Linked DNA regions of Homo sapiens: region 2 is linked to region 1. Evidence: fine-mapped expression QTL. A gene starts in region 1. The other region holds a variant in brackets. All regions are shown on one strand. Distances are from middle to middle.

The links.
Region 2: its variant is fine-mapped to the expression of SMAGP in whole blood (INTERVAL, PIP above 0.99).

Annotation. Positions count from the first base shown.
Region 1 is chr12:51,266,629-51,274,955 of GRCh38, forward strand. It overlaps SMAGP (small cell adhesion glycoprotein), which reads right to left and starts at 3,787. Exons shown (of 4, transcript NM_001031628.2): 1 at 3,628-3,787; 2 at 2,617-2,688. The coding sequence starts at 2,650. RefSeq lists silencers at 3,056-3,725, 3,766-3,845 and an enhancer at 3,461-3,961.
Region 2 is chr12:51,317,482-51,325,755 of GRCh38, forward strand. BIN2 (bridging integrator 2) reads right to left here and starts at 6,693. Exons shown (of 13, transcript NM_016293.4): 1 at 6,541-6,693. The coding sequence starts at 6,621. It overlaps LOC105369767 (a long non-coding RNA gene), which reads right to left and starts at 6,527. Exons shown (of 2, transcript XR_944957.3): 1 at 6,247-6,527; 2 at 4,887-5,722. RefSeq lists enhancers at 1,404-1,463, 1,744-1,913, 6,219-6,408 and silencers at 3,164-3,458, 6,439-6,928. The variant T/A (reference allele first, on the strand shown) is at 3,159.

The sequences.
Region 1 (8,327 bases):
AGTTAAGCTTTATCATAAGTATGTATGTACAGGAAAAAACACAGTATAGATGGGGTTCAGTACTATCTGAGATTTCAGGCATCCACTGGGGTTTTTGGAATGAATCCCCTGTGGATAAGCGGGGACTACTCTACCACTGAATTGTCTGCGAAAAAATGGCTAAAATGGTAATACCTGTACTATGTTTATTTTACCATAAATTTTAAAAAAGAAAAAATGGCATGAGCCTGTAATCCCAGCACTTTGGGAGGCCGAGAAGGGCAGATCACTTGAGGCCAGGAGTTTGAGACCAGCCTGGCCAACATGGCGAAACCCTGTCTCCACTAAAAGTATACAAATTAGCCAGGCGTGGTAGCGCACGCCTGTAATTCCAGCTACTAGGGAGACTAAGGTGGGAGAATTGCTTGAACCCAGGGGGCGGAGGTTGCAGTGAACCGAAATTAAGCCACTGTACTCCAGCCTGGGTGACACAGCAAGACTTGGTCTCAAAAATAATAATAATAAAATTTAAAAAATGTAAACAGCTCCCCCTTGCCAAGGTTCTAATCCCTCAGCTAGCTGCCAAGGTATCACCTTTTTTCCCTTGTGGGCAGGATTATTCTGGAGGTCCTCTGCCCACCCGCTTCCTGAACATCCTCCAGGGTAAATCGTCTCTGTAGCTTCACACATGGTATGAGGTATTCTACCTTTATCTAGAGCAGGTACACACGAAAAAGGTATTCTACGTTTCTCTAAGATACCTGCTGCGCCCCTTTGCCTGTATGAACCTTGTCCGTCTTTCAAGGGCAAGACTCAGATCCCCTTCCTCACCCACCCATGAAGCCTTTGCTGACCTATTCCCCCCCCCCACTCCGTGTCCCCCTAACTCTTTTTTTTTTTTTTTAAGACAGGGTCTTGCTCTGTCACCTAGGCCGGAGTGCAGTGGCATGATCTCGGCTCATTGCAACCTCCATCTCCTGGGCTCAAGGGATCCTCCCACCTAAGCCTTTGGAGTAGCTGGAACCACAGGTGTCTACCACCAAGCCCGGCTAATTTTTAAATTTTTTTGTAGAGATGGGGTTTCGCCATGTTGCCCAGGCTGATCTCGAACTCCTGAGCTCAGTCTGCCTGCCTCAACCTCCCAGAGTGCTGGAATTACAGGCGTGAGCCACCATACCTGGCCATTTCTCTCTTTTATCTCTTCTCACCAGACAACTAAAAGTCTGAATTGTGTGCATTACCAGTCACAGAGGACACTGTCTTAGACTTCCACTGGTGGTGTCACTCACCTGTTTCCACATCAGTAAAAGCAGAGAATGCCTGTCCTAATGACAAATGTGACTGTGTATAGGAAGACAAAGGTGTATAGACCAACCAAGGGTTTGTTCCTCTCTCTCCCTAACTAGCACATGCTGAAAACAGTCAATAAATAACTGATAGTTTGTCCGGCCCAGCCTGATGATGAACTAAAAGGTGGGCATCCATTCTCAGAGTGCTGAGCAGTAGTGCCCGGCCTCCGCACACCTTCAGGGAACAATGGGGTTTTGATGCTGGGTCTGTATCACCAGAGGAGTGGAATGAGAAAGCCAGCAAAATCACTTTCAAGGGAAAGATGGGTTTCTAACAAGTACTCAGTGCTAATAACCAACGTGACTGAGTGCTTACGAGATACTACACACTCTTCTAGGTGTTTTATATGGGTTGTCTCATTTAATCTTCATAAATCATAAGATAGGTACTATTTTCCCTATTTTGTGAATGATGAAACCGGAGCTTAGAGGTTAGCAATACTATCTTTAGCAGGTTTTTAAAAAATGATTTCCCTGTTATCTTTGAAGATTCCTTTTCCACATTTAATTACAAGGGTTTCTGCTACATTCTTTGCCATAGCTATAAATTATTAGACAGATGAATGTAAAGCCCTTCCTTTAGGCTTATACAATAATCTTCCTTCCTTCCTTCCTTCCTTCCTTTCCTTTCCTCCCTCCCTTCCTATTTTTTGAGACCGGTCTCACTTTGTTGCCCAGGCTGGAGTGCAATGGCACGATCTCGGCTCACCTGTGCTTCCCAGGTTCAAGCGATTCCCATGCCTCAGCCTCCTGAGTAGTTGGGATTACAGGCGTGCACCACCACGCCTGGCTAATTTTTTTGTATTTTTAGTAGAGATGGAGTTTCACCATGTTGGCCAGGCTGGTCTCAAACTCCTGACCTCAGATGATCCGCCCACCTCGACCTCCCAAACTGCTGGCATTACAAGCATGAGCCACCACGCCCGGCCTCTTTCTTTCTTTTGAATTAGCAATGGGGTCTCACTATGTTCCCCAGGCAGGTCTCAAACACCTAGCCTCAAGAGATCCTCCTGTCTCAGTCTCCCAAAGTCCTGGGATTACCGACATAAAATTATTTGATAAACCGAGGTTACAAAGATTTGTGAAGTCACCATGTCCATGTGACTTCAGATTAAAACCGTACTAAGGGGCACACTCTAGTTCCTGCTTCCTCCCAGGCCCTTCCTGTGTGAGGCAGGCAGAGAGAGGTGGGAGTCTTCCCACCTGGGCTGAGGCTTCCAGGACTGGTCTGGGGAAGGGGATGTTGAACAATTCTTTCTCACTGGGATTAGGAAAGGCCTTCACCTACCTCTTGGAGAAGGAGTAGTCAGGAGGCTGGTCATTGTCACTAGTGGTTGAGTTTCTTGGAGAAGAGGCAGATCTGTAGGAAGAGGGGCAAAGACAGGAATGTAGCGGGTGGGCCCCTATGGCTTTGAGTCCTGGAAGTCCCAGGAAAGCCTCTGGTGCCAGGTTCTCCCAAGTCCCTTCCCCTTTTTCTCTTGTCCTCTTCTGGTTTCCCTGAATATCTCCTCAGGCTCCAGGTACCAACAGCTCTCCACAGGAGCAGGTCTGAGGCCGCATGCAGTTTGACGGGGTGTTACCTTCATACGCTCTCTCCAGGTCCTTTCAATGGGCCACCAAATTTACTTAGATCTCTCAAGGCCTGAGAAAGTCAGGCAAAGGTTCGCAAATCAGCAGCGAACCCAGTTTCGCCAAAGCGCGGTAACAGGTACCCTAGGGTTCCACAGCTAGGAGTTCTGGTGACGCCATCCACCAGGTGTCAGGAGAGGGCCGGGAAGGTCAGGACCCGCGCCCAGGCTCCAGAGCGGAGTGGGCGCAGCGCAGTAGCCGGGCCGGGACCGGGAGGCGACGGCCGTGGGCCGCCTTCTGGCTCGCCTCGGACGCTGGGACGCCGGACTGGCCGCCCCCTCCGGGCCTGCTTTCGCCGTCCAGGGCGCGGTCCGCGCACAGCCTGCCAAGCCTCACTGGGCCCCAGCCCGCGCCCCGCGCCCCGGAGATCCTCGACGCCCCTGCGAACGCGGGGTGGACGCGACGGGCTGGGTTGGTCCTCGCCCCGCGGCCCCGCCCCCGTCCCCGCCCCCGCCCCGAGCCCCCCGCGTTACCAGCACCCCGCGGAGCGCGCTGCGCTGGGGGCGGCCGGTGCGTCGGGGAGCGGCGTTCCCAGCCGCCGCGACCCTCTGCCCCAGCGGAGCGCTGAGCTTCGGCCGCTCCGGGTTTCGGTTCCTGCCACGGCCGAGGTGGCTGCGGCGAATGTGGGCGACCCGGCTCTCCGGCGCCCCCGCCCTTCCCTCGTGCTCACCTTTCCAGTCGGACGGGCTGCTGGTGAAGGGCCGGCGCCGCTCCGCGCGTCCTTTTGAACTCAACGGGGGCGGGCACCGCGGAGTCGCGGAGGCCAGCAGAGGCCGAACGAGGACCCCGAGCGGAGGAAGCCGCGGGTGGCGCGCGGGGTTGGCGCAGAGGCCGGAGGGGGTGGGGGGCAGGCCGACGGGGTGGGACAGGAAAAGCGGAGAGAAACCGCCCTCTGCAGGTCCCCTTGGCTCCCCCGGGAGGAAAGGCAGCCTGCCCTTCTCCGATTGTCACTTTACTCTCCATCCGGAGCCGCTTCCTTTCTCGCCGCGAGGCTCGGGGTTGGGGGGGGACCAGATTGGAGCCGCGGGCTAACTGGGATCCGTCCCATTTCCCTGGGCTTGACGTTCTCTGAATTTTTAGCTAATGTGGAAAGTTACATTTATTTGCATTTGTTTATCGCTTGCTCACATAGGTCTGTGTCCTGAAGCTTGGCAGATGAGCGAACTTAGCCAGCACACCCCCGGCCGTGAAGCAGGGAGGTGAAGCGGGGAGAGCAACGAGCCCCACCCGGGTCTTGCCAGCTGGACGTTCTTGTGGGGCAGCGTTGAGCAGCGGTTAGGAGTGCCGTGGACTTTGGATTCAAACAGCCCCAGCTCTTCTGCTTGCTAGCTGGGTGACTTTGGGCAAATTAACATCTCGAAAATCTGTTTCCTCATTCCTAAAATGCGGGTCTGAAAGTGATCATGCCTGTAAAGCCATCTCATATCCATGGTTCTAGAAGCATGGTGAGCACCTCAATTTGAATAATCAGTGCCATGCTTTAGCTACCTCTTGACTCACTCGTTTGTGGCAGGAAATGTTCCCAAATTAATCAGAAGAATTCAGTGACTAAGAGGATGTAATAGTATATAGCGCAGGCACTGGAATCAGCTCTGCTGTGTGATCTTGGACAAGCTGCTTCTGTTCCGTTTCTCTTATCTGGGGCAATACCTGTCTGAATAGAGTGACTGTTGGGACGAAATAGGTTAGTAAATATGTACTGTAAGGCATTAGAACCTTGCCTGGCACATAGTAAGTGCTCAATAAACGCTAGGTCTTGTTACCTTGGCTTCCCGTTTAGGATTGGAACCCTTGTGATTATTCTTTCCCTCCCAGTGATAGACTTCTGTGCTTACTTCGCACTCCTAGGCGTTCTGTAGGTTTGTAAACCAGTATTTATACAGAAATACTTTCTGTAGAAAGACAGGCATCATCAGATTGTGCATGTTAATCCGGGAACAGACCGAAAGGGAAGGTCTCAGAGGAGAGAGGCATAAAGGGAGAAAACAAAACAAAGTCACAAGCAAAGCAAGAGTAGTTGCTTTTATTCCTAAAGTGTTCATTATAAAAGAAACCAGAGGGCAGGGCACTGTGGCTCCCAGCACTTTGGGAGGCGGGTGGATCACTTGAGGTCAGTAGTTTGAGACCAGTCTGGCCAACAAGGTGAAACCCTGTCTCTACTAAAAATACAAAATCCGCTGGGCGTGGTGGCACACACCTGTAATCCCTGCTACTCTGGAGGCTGAGGCACGAGAATTGCTTGAACCTGGGAGGCAGAGGTTGCAGTGAGGCGAGATCACACCATTGCACTCCAGCCTGGGCAACAACAGCAAAACTCCGTCTCAAAAGAAAAAAACAAACACAAATACAGGAGGAAAACAAACAATAAAAAAGTGATGAAATTCATTTTATATAAATATATTGTGAGAAATATATGTAAATATGTGCATGGGAAAATGCCAATCCAACCAAGAAAGGCAAAGAAAGTGATATGCCAGCTATGCATATGTAACTTAATAAAAGAAAGGTGAGCCTGGCTTGTCCTTAGATAAGAGAATATCCAAGAGAAAAGGAAATTAAAATCCTAGAGGGCTAAATCCAAAGGAGGACAATTGCTGGCATTGACATACTTCTAGCTGTCCACCTTGATCATGAATTCCAGGAGAAGTTCAGATCGTTCTTGGACCTGGGTCTGTCTCTTTCACATTTTCTATTATGTGTTGAAGATTGTTTAGAACTATAGACTCAGCCAGGCGCGGTGGCTCACACTTGTAATCCCAGCACTTTGGGAGGCCGAGGCGGGTGGATCACAAGGTCAGGAGTTCAAGACCAGCCTGGCCAACACAGTGAAACCCTGTCTCTACTAAAAATATAAAAATTAGCTGGACGTGGTGGCAGGCGCCTGTAATCCGAGCTAATGGGGAGGCTGAGGCAGGAGAATCGCTTGAACCCGGGAGGCGGAGGTTGCAGTGAGCCGAGATTGTGCCACTGCACTCCAGCCTGGGCGACAAAAAAAAAAGAAAAAAAGAACTACAGACTCAGAGGCTATCTGGCTCAACTGACTGACTCTACTGATTTGCTGTCACTTTCACAATTTCGACAGTTGTTAGTAATGTTCTTTCAATAAGCATCTTTTTTTTCTCTTTAAAATGTAACTGGTGGGGCGCAGTGGCTCACGCCTGTAATCTCAGCACTTTGGGAGGCCAAGGCAGGCAGATCACCTGAGGTCAGGAGTTCGAGATCAGCCTGGCCAACATGGCGAAACCACGTCTCTACTAAAAATACAAAAATTAGCTGAGTGTGGTGGCGGGAGCCTGTAATCCCAGCTACTTCGGAGTCTGAGGCAGGAGAACCTTTTTGCACCCTGGAGGTGGAGGTTGCAGTGAGCCGAGATTGCACCAACGCACTCCAGCCTGGGCAACAGAGTGAGACTCTGACTCAAAAAAAAAAAAAAACAAGTAACCTTACACCTATAATCCCAGCACTTTGGGAGGCCACAGTGGGCAGATCACTTAAGCCTAGGAGTTTGAGACCAGCCTGGGCAACATGTTGAAACACTGTCTCTACAAAATACAAAAAAAGTTAGACAGGAGTCGTGGCATGCACCTGTGGTCCCAGCTAGTCAGGAGGCTGAGGTGGGAGGATCACTTGAGCCCTGGGGGTGAAGGCTGCACTCCAGCCTGGGAGATATAGCAAGATCCTTTCCCCTCAACCAAAAAAAAGTAACCTTAGGGAGGGAGGTGGGGATGATTAATGGGTACAAAAAAAAAAAAAAAAAGAATAAGACCTTAAGACCTACTATTTGGTAGCACAACAGGGTGACTATAAATAATAACTTAATTGTACATTTAAAAATAACTAAAATAGTGTAATTGGATTGTTTTTAACACAAAAGATAAATGCTTAAGGGGATGGATACTCCATTCTCCATGATATGATTTTATTATGCATTGCATGCTTATATCAAAACATCTCATGAGGCCGGGCATGGTGGCTCACACCTGTAATCCCAGCACTTTGGCAGGCGGATCACAAAGTCAGGAGATCAAGACCATCCTGGCTAACATGGTGAAACCCCGTCTCTACTAAAAATACAAAAAATTAGGCAGGCGTGGTGGCAGGCACCTGTAGTCCCAGCTACTGGGGAGGCTGAGGCAGGAGAATGGCATGAACCCGGGAGGCAGAGCTTGCAGTGAGCTGAGACTGTGCCACTGCACTCCAGCCTGGGCAACAGAGCAAGACTCTGTCTCAAAAAAAAAAAAACAAAAAAACTCATGTACCCCATAAATATATATACCTCCTATGAACCCACAAAAATTAAACATTAAAAAAATAAAAATAGGCCAGGCACAGTGGCTCACGCCTGTAATCCCAGCACTTTGGGAGGCCGAGGCGGGCAGATCACAAGGTTGAGAGATCGAGACCATCCTGGCCAACATGGTGAAACCCCAACTCTAATAAAAATACAAAAATTAGTCGAGCATGGTGGCGCATGCCTGTTATCCCAGCTGCTCAAGACGCTGAGGCAGGAGAATCGCTTAAACCTGGGAGGCGGAGGTTTCAGTGAGCAGAGATCACACCACTGCACTCCAGTCTGGCAACAGGGTGAGACTCCATCTCAAAAAAAAATAATAATAAAAATGAATAAAATGTAACCTTAGAAGGTTTGCTGATACTTGATTTTTTTTTTTTTTTTTGGAGACAAGAGTCTTGCTCTATCACCCAGGCTGGAGTGCAATGGCGTGATATCGGCTCACTGCAACCTCCGCCTCCCGGGTTCAAGCAATTCTTCTGCCTCAGCCTCCCAAATAGCTGGGATTACAGGCGTCTGCCATCAGGCCCGGATAATTTTTTGTATTTTTAGTAGAGACAGAGTTTCGCCATGTTGGCCAGGCTGGTCTCGAACTCCTGACCTCAGGTGATCCACCCGGCTCAGCCTCCCAAAGCGCTGGGATTACAGGCATGAGCCACCACGCCTGGCCTGATACATTATTTATTAATTTTTTTATGTAGTCACATACCTCATTTTATTTTTTGAGGTGGAGTCTCACTCTGTCGTCCAGGTTGGAGTGCAGTGGCTCCATCTCAGCTCACTGCAACCTCTGCCTCCCAGGTTCAAGTGATTCTCATGCCTTAGCCTCTGGAGTAGCTGGGATTACAGGTCCACACCACCAGGCCTGGCTAACTTTTGTATTTTTAGTAGAGACAGGGTTTCACCATGTTGGCCAGGCTGGTCTCAAACTCCTGACCTTGAGTGATCCACCTGCCTCGGCCTCCCAAAGTGCTGGGATTATAGGCATGAGCCACTGCTCCCAGCCAACATACCTCATTTTAAAAGTGTAGTCATACAGAAAAATAGATCCAATATGCACATGCTCAGCACCCAGTTTG
Region 2 (8,274 bases), 51 kb after region 1:
ACATGGTGAAACCCCATCTCTACTAAATACAAAAAAAATTAGCTGGGTGTGGTGGTGCACGCCTGCAATCCCAGCTACTTGGGAGGCTGACGCAGGAGAATCGGTTAAAGGGTTGCAGTGAGCCAAGATTGCGCCATTGCACTCCAGCCTGGGCAACAGAGCGAAACTCTGTCTCAAAAAACAAAACAAAAAATTAAATTAAATTAAATTAAAAAAGAAAAAAAAGGCCGGGAGCGGTGGCTCACGCCTGTAATCCCAGCACTTTGGGAGGCAGAGGCGGGTGGATCACGAGGTCAGGAGATCGAGACCATCTTGGCTAACACGATGAAACCCCGTCTCTACTAAAAACACAAAAAATTAGCCAGGCGTGGTGGTGGGTGCCTGTAATCCCAGCTACTCAGGAGGCTGAGGCAGGAGAATGGCATGAACCCGGGAGGCGGAGCTTGCAGTGACCCGAGATAGCGCCACCGCAGTCCGGCCTAGGCAAAAGAGCAAGACTCCGTCTCAAGAAAAAAAGAAAAAGAAAAAGAAAAAAGAAATAGAGTATAAAGGGTGACAGCAGAAAGAGGATTCCAGTTAGAGACAACAGCATCAGGAAAATCATAGGAGTACACAGCTTCACTAGCTGGTTCAGCATGGCTGTTATGGGGAGTGGTGGGGAATGAAGCTAGAAAGGGAGACTGGAGTTTCATTGTGAAGGGCTTTGAATGCCATGCAAGAGTGCCCAGATCTGGGGAGTGTGGCAGGTTCTGTGGAGAGACTCTGATTCATATCTCCATTCTTTTTTTTTTTTTTTTTTGAGACAAGTCTTGCTCTGTCGCCCAGGCTGGAGTGCAGTGATGCCATCTCAGCTCACTGCAACCTCTGCCTCACCGGCTCAAGCCATTCTTCTGCCTCAGCCTCCCAAGTAGCTGGGATTACAGGTGCCCACCACCACGCCTGGCGAATTTTTGTATTTTTAGTAGAGACAGGGTTTCGCCATGTTGGCCAGGCTGGTCTTGAATTCCTGACCTCAGGTGATCTGCCCACCTCAGCCTCCCAGTGTTGGAATTATAGGCGTGAGCCACTGGGCCACCAGTATCTCCATTCTTAATCCGGGGGTGTGTCTCATTCCTGGAGCTCTTGCTGTAGTGGATAAGATCAAGCATTCTGGAGTTAGACAGATATGGGCTCCTATCTTGGCCTTTCTACTTACTGACTGTAAGTCTTCAGGCAAGTCATTAAAACTTTTGAGCCTCGGTTTACAGAACTCCCTTTCCCCCATTAGATAATATTTATCTCCTTGAGTTGTCAGGAGGATTAAATGATATTTTGCATGTAAATTGCTTTCTCAGAGCTGCCCTACAAAGAGCACTCAATAGGTACTCACTGTCATTATGTTTAGTTTTGCTCCCTTGCCTGTAAATGCTTATATTTTTGGTTTGGCCATATCTGTTTGGTTTGGCCATATCTGTTTTTGTCCGTCTCTAACTGCACCTCACTTGCCACCCAGCCCTGGATGTGCAGTCTGCCATCCTCCCTGGCTCCACCCTTCTCAGCTAACAAAACACTGTTCTCTACCAGAAAGTTGCAAAACCACCTTGTTAGTGGTAAGTGCAGCTCTTAACTTCCTTTCTGCTACCCCTCCCTTCCTTTGTCCCTAATTTGGTTCTTCTTAGGTGGAGAGGACAGAAAAAACAGAAAAGAGAAAACTCAGTCTAGAGTCAGTGTAAGGGATGACTGGGGCAGACCAATCTCCCCAATCCCCAAAAGGCTCAAGGCCAAAAGGCTTGGAGAGTGTGGGGTCGGGGGTTGGGGGGTACTGAGAGAAACTTCCTCACCCTCCAACTCTGAAAGTGAAAAGGTGTTACCACCCTGAAACATACCCCAGTACTCTGGAGCCAAAGTAATTTGTTGCCATAAGCAACAGGTACATGTTAGGGCACTTATACTGTGTCATGGGTGTTCTTCCCAACGAAAGACCCTTGAGGGAACAGGGTGTACAGATGCTAAACAGATGTTTGTTGAAACAATGAATAAATTCTACTTTTGGATCACTTCCTAATGAAAACCCATATAATGCTAATCCCTAAAATCCTGCTTTGAGAATTCTGTCCCAATTTATCTGGCCTGGCAGCTAAATTAGAATATAGATATTTAAGGAGAAAGAGCAAGAGCAAGGCAAAAAAGTAAATGTGGCAAAACGTTAACACTTGGTGAATCTGCATGAAAAATATTCCAGTGTTCATTGATTATTTATAACTTTTCTGTAGATCAGGGTTGGGGTGGAAATAGAGCTTTAAAAAAAATTACTACATATATCTTTGGTGGCTATAGTTCCCTACCATTGCCTCTCCCATAATCATTTATTATATTTTAGTTAATTCCCTCAATTGGGGTAATTTGCATAGGGCCTGGATATTTGATATTATAAAATTTTGCTAAAATTTTTTCTTAGGTGCAGTAAATTTTTGTGGTTATGTAGGAAATCTTTCTCTTTCCTTCCTTCCTTCCTTTTCTCCCTCTCTTTCTTTCTTACTTTCGAGACAGAGTCTAGCTCTATTGCCCAGGCTGGAGTGCAGTGGCACAATCTCAGCTCACTGCAACCTCCACCTCCCAGATTCAAGCGATTCTCCTGCCTCAGCCTCCAAGCAGCCAGGACTACAGGTGTGCACCACTAGGCTAATTTTTGTATTTTTTGGTAGAGATGGGATTTCGCCACATTGGCCAGCCTGGTCTCGAACTCCTGGGATTTCGCCACATTGGCCAGCCTGGTCTCGAACTCCTGACCTCAGGTGATCTACCCACCTCGCCCTCCCAAAGTGTTGGGATTACAGGCATGAGCCATGGCGCTTGGCCGGAAATCTTTATTTTTAGGATATATGATAAAGTAAGCTTTCCTTAAAAGGTCCTAATATACTTTTTCCAGCCTTTGCTCTGACCACTCCCTGTGCTCCAGCTGAGCTGTAGTTCTCACTCCAGTCTCCATGCCTTGCTTATGCTGGCACTTCTCAGCTAGAATGCTCTCTGATCACGTGTCTGAAAAACTACTAATCTCCCATAATTCCTATTTCAAATTCAGCCTCCACTATAAAACCTCTCGATTCTCCCCAATCCTTTTGTCCTCTGAATAGACCTGCATCTCTCAGGTCAGTTATTTTATTATCATTATTCTTTTT[T/A]TTTTTTTTTTTTAACTAGATCTTAAGCTTTTGGCAAAGCAAGAATGTCTCTTACCCCTAAATTCCCTGCTGGGTCCAGCCCAGTACCCTGAACAAAGGAGTTTTTCTGTAAATATTTGTGGAATTTAACCCTCTGGGATTTAAGCTGAGTAGATGTCAACAGAGGAGAAGACCAACAAAGGAGTGGTAAACAACGCCCCTTCTCAGGGGGATCTGAGAGGTTTGCCACAGAGAAATCACAAACAGATGGTGAAAGCAGTACTATAGTTGGAAATGAGAAGATGTATCATACTAAAAACACACACACACACACAAACACACACACACACACTCTAAAGCCAGCTTAAATTCAGTCCCATGTTGAGTTTGGGCGGGAAATGGAAAACAGACCAAGAATGTTTCATCCCTATTGTGTTTAATGGTCACCAGACCTCCACTCCCAGCTTTTCAGAGGATGCCTGAACAAAAAGTGTTTCTACTTCTGAGCTCTGTTCCTGAGAGAGGATCAGCAGGAAGTGGGGGAGGCACAGATGTGAGAGTGGCTTATCAGGAACGTTGTAAAGCAGCAGCCTGAGTGAGGTTAGGATTCAGAGGCAGGACACCTGGGTTTCAGTAATATTTCTGCTACCTACCAATCTCTTTTGAGCCTTGTTTCCTTATTTCTAAAACAGAGATGCTAATAACCTGCTTAAAGTGTTGAATAGATGAAGGGAGATGACATCGGTAGAATGTTGGCTCCATAAAGGGAGAGAGAATCACTTTGTCTTTTTTTTTTTTGAGACAGAGTTTTGCTCTTGTTGCACAAGTTGGAGTGCAATGGCGCGATCTCGGCTCACGGCAACCTCCGCCTCCCAGGTTCAAGCGATTCTCCTGCCTCAGCCTCCTGAGTAGCTGGGATTACAGGCATGCGCCACCACACCCGGCTGATTTTGTATTTTTAGTAGAGACGGGGTTTCTCCATGTTGGTCAGGCTGGTCTCGAACTCCCGACCTCAGGAGATCCACCTGCCTGGGCCTCCCAAAGTGCTGGGATTACAGGCGTGAGCCACTGCACCCCGCTGATAATCACTTTCTTATATCCCTGTCTCTGGTCCATAATAGGCGCTTGATATTTGACACATTTCACTATTTGACACATTAGCTATTACTTATTACTCAGAAGATTACATCCAACTGCTTGCAGAAAAAGCAAAAAGTGTTGCAAGGAATTCTTTCATTTTAGTGCAAATTTCTCCCTCTTTATCTTGGTCTCAATAACTTCCCAAGACTCAAGGACTGGCTTCAGGCTGACGGAGCTGAGCTCCCTTCCGGCATCCCAGGCCATTCCCACCTTATCGAAGTTCAACCTTTGCCTACCCTTTTGTCTAGTCTAGGTTCAGAATATCTTGTTTTCTTCATCAGCTGGGAATTCCTCATGGCAGATTTGAGTTTGCTCCTCTTTCTCTACTTCCTCAGGGTTCAGGCCAGAAGAACCTGAGAGACTGGTTCTGTCTTTGGGAAGTATTTGACTCTGAGTCTAATGTGACAGCTTTTCAATTTAGTGTTCTTACCATATTGAGTTTCATCAAGAACATCAACCCTCTCATTTTACAGGTGCAAGATCTGAAGCCCAGAGCAGGACATTATTTAGCCAAGGTTTGGAGTCTATGCTTACAAAGGAGTGAAAGCCCAAAGCAAGGTTTTAGTGTTGACGAGAGGCTAGATGAAGACAGAAGATGCAAGAGTGAAATACAATCAATTGTATGTCTTTTATTTTTATGTATTTATTTTTATTTTTTGAGACAGAGTCTCCCTCTGCTTGAGTGTGGTGTGGTGTGATCACTGCTCACTGCAGTCTTGATCTCCTGGGCTCAAGCAGTCCTCCCACCTTGGCCTCCCAAAGTGCTGGGATTACAGGAGTGAGCCACTGTGCCTGGCTGGTATGTCTTTTTAAAATTACTATCATTCATGAGTGTTTTGTCTTTTAGGGTTTTTTTTTTTTTCAACCACAGTGTGGCCTTCTCTCCAGTACCTCCTGCTCGCCCACACTGTTTCGAGCTAGACCTTCCCATAGGCCCTGCTCTCGGGTCTACCAGATTTGTAAGTCTTCAGAGAGGCTGAAACTAGGATCAAGGTGAAGTTAGGGTAAGTGAAGTAACGAAGTCTGGCTACACGAACTCTTTCCCTTTTCCTCCTCTCTTTCACATGACCTCAAATGATAGAAAATAACCTCCCTTCCATTGTGGTCTCTTAAAGTCAGGAGCTACATCTACATTCCATCAGTTTTCTGCTGATAAATCAACTCGGGAGAGCTGGTTGCCTTTAAGCCTTCCCAGGGCTCAAAGCAGTGCTCCACTTTTAGAAGATAATAGGGATATTTCAGTTGGTAAGCAGAGCTGTTCATCCAAATGCTTCTAAGTCCATCAGCTCTTAGAAAACCAAAACTTCTCCGTTGTAGAAGGCAGGTTGGGCTTAATAAAGAGAGAGAGAAAAAAAGGAAAACCGAAACTCTATCTCAGGTCCTTCTTGTCTTTCTTCCCTCGCTCTTTCTTCTGGCTGACATGTCTTCCCAAACCGCCTTGTCTACTAGAGGGTTGGTAGGTGGAGAGCAGAGGCTCAGGTTAGAAGCAAAGAAAATATTCTGTACAGGTAGAAACAAAAATGCCATCAAAATGTGTAGAGAATGTCCCCACAATTTAGATTGCCAAGCAAGTAATAGATGGGCAGCCCACCTAAGTGCCAGTGCTGGAGCAGGGCTACCTGACACTAACCAAGGACACACTCTGAACACAGATGTGGTTCATCACCCTGGGAGGTGTACTCCCCAACGCCAAAGGGAGGGTAGAAGAAGCAGATTTGGGCTCCTGCTTACGTCAGCTGAAACACCACCCAGAGGCCAGGCAGGGTCAGGTAGGGGGAGAACTATGCAGGATTATTCTAAGCCTTTGGTGGGGGGTGCCTGCTGGCATCCGCTGCATCGCTGTTTTTGGGGAAATTGCCCTCTATGGAAAATTACCCTCCAATTTCATCATCTGTAAAATACCAATTTTGGATTGCTAGCACAAAATTTGATACAAAGGTGGCCACCACCATCACTTCCTTTCTTTCACCTTTTCTGGGTCAGCCTGAGGGTTGTCGAAGGTTCTGCCCAGAGACTGTTGTCTCCCCAGCTTCCCTTATCCTTGCCCAAGATCGGGTGGCGGTCTCCGACCTCTCTCCAATCTGCCAGTTTTCATGGAAGCCCACTCCTCGCTCCCGTTTCCCTGGGAGAGCGGGAGACCCTTCTCGTCAGCCCAGACCCTTCGGGGCCCCTGAGCACCCTGCCCGCCCCTCCTGCCCGGCCGGGCTCGGCCTCGGCCTCGGCTCCCTGTGGGCCAGACAGACAGCGAGGCCCGGCCACCTACCTTCTCCTGGGCCCTGCTAAACTTCTTCTGCACCTGCTTGGCGAAGAGGCCGGCCGCGCCGCCTGCCTTGCCCTCTGCCATCCTGCCAACTCCCTGGGGGCCGCCGCCCTGGCCCCGCGCCCTGTGGTTTTCTGAGGCCCCCGAGGAGGAAGTGCGGGCTCCCGGCATGCCTCGCATCCGGCCCCAGCCCTGAGCCACCTCAGGCCGCCCCTGGCCAGCCCTGAGGCCCGCCCCTCAGCCCACCACTGTCAGCTGGAGCAGGCCGGCTCGGAGGGGCGGGCCCGGGGCCTACCCTCAGGCAGCGCTCGCTCGAGGCCAGCTTCCGAGCTCCAACCCCTGCCCGAAACCTCGGCCTCACTGAACCAGGTCCTCAGTGGTGGGCCCACACTCACTCGCTCCGGAAAGCCAGTTCCCATCACGCTGAGCACTGCAAAGCAACTGCCACCGCAGGGTAGAAAATGATGTGGGTTCCACTCAGCGAGAGGACCTACCATATCGAAAACACGTTTAGGTTCTCTGAGTATGCATGCGAAGCCGCCATGTACACTGCGTTTCTTGCTCCAGGTAGGCTCTAAGCCTGGAACTGGTAGGGATAGAGTGCAGAAAGCAGGCAGGACACCCGAGCCGGGCTTGAAAGAGAGAAACAGGCCGGGCGCGGTGGCTCACGCCTGTAATCCTAGCACTTTGGGAGGCCGAGGCGGGTGGATCGCCTGAGGTTAGGAGATCAGCCTGACCAATACGGTGAAACCGCGTCGCTACTAAAAATACAAAAATTAGCTGGGTGTGGTGGCGCACGCCTGCAGTCCCAGCTACTCGAGAGGATGACGCAGGAGAATTGTTTGAACCCGGGAGGCAGAGGTTGCAGTGAGCCGAAATCGCGCCACTGCATTCCAGCCTGGGCGACAGAGCGACAGTTCGTCTCAAATAAATAAATAAATAAATAAATAAATAAATAAATAAATGAGGAACAACTAAGCTGGAGATAGAAACAGGGTAGGGGGCTGGTTCTTAGGCAAGAGAATGATCACATTGAAAAAAGGCTGAGGAGGATAGTATGGACGCCCGTGCTGAGCATGAGGAGCAAGTTTTTCTAGTTGGAGTACAGTGTACTGGATGGAGGCAGAATGTGAACACAGACACAGATTGTGCAAATTGGGGTGCGGCTGTTGAGATGACAACTATTGTTTCTTTAGGGAGAAGTTCTCCAAAAAATTCCTCCCTGACCTGTTTGAGGGGATAGCTTGAGATTAGGACACTAGGTGTGGAGGAACCACGTACTCAGATTTTACAGTGCAGGTTAAAATTTCCTCAAGGCAGGGAAGAAGGTCAAAATAACACTTCCTAAGGAGTGGAGGGGGAAGATAGGGCCTGACACAAAATTAGAGGCCCTTGTATGCTACTGTGTTCCTCTTCTTTCTCCAAAACAATCATTACTGCACTCAAGGTCAACTGTGTACCAGGCATTGCTGGGTGTTCTGAAACAAGGATGAATAAAATGCAGTCCCTGACCTTAAGATGCTTAATGAAGTCTGGCCGGGCACCACGGCTCACACCTGTAATCCCAACACTTTAGGAGGCTGAGGCAGGCAGATTGCTTGAGCCCAGGAGTTTGAGACTAGCCTGCGCAACATAGCAAGACCTTCTCTCTGCTAAAAATACAAAAATTAATTGGGCGTGGTGGCACACACCTGTAGTCCCAGCTATCAGGGAGGCTGAGGTGGGAGGATCACCCGA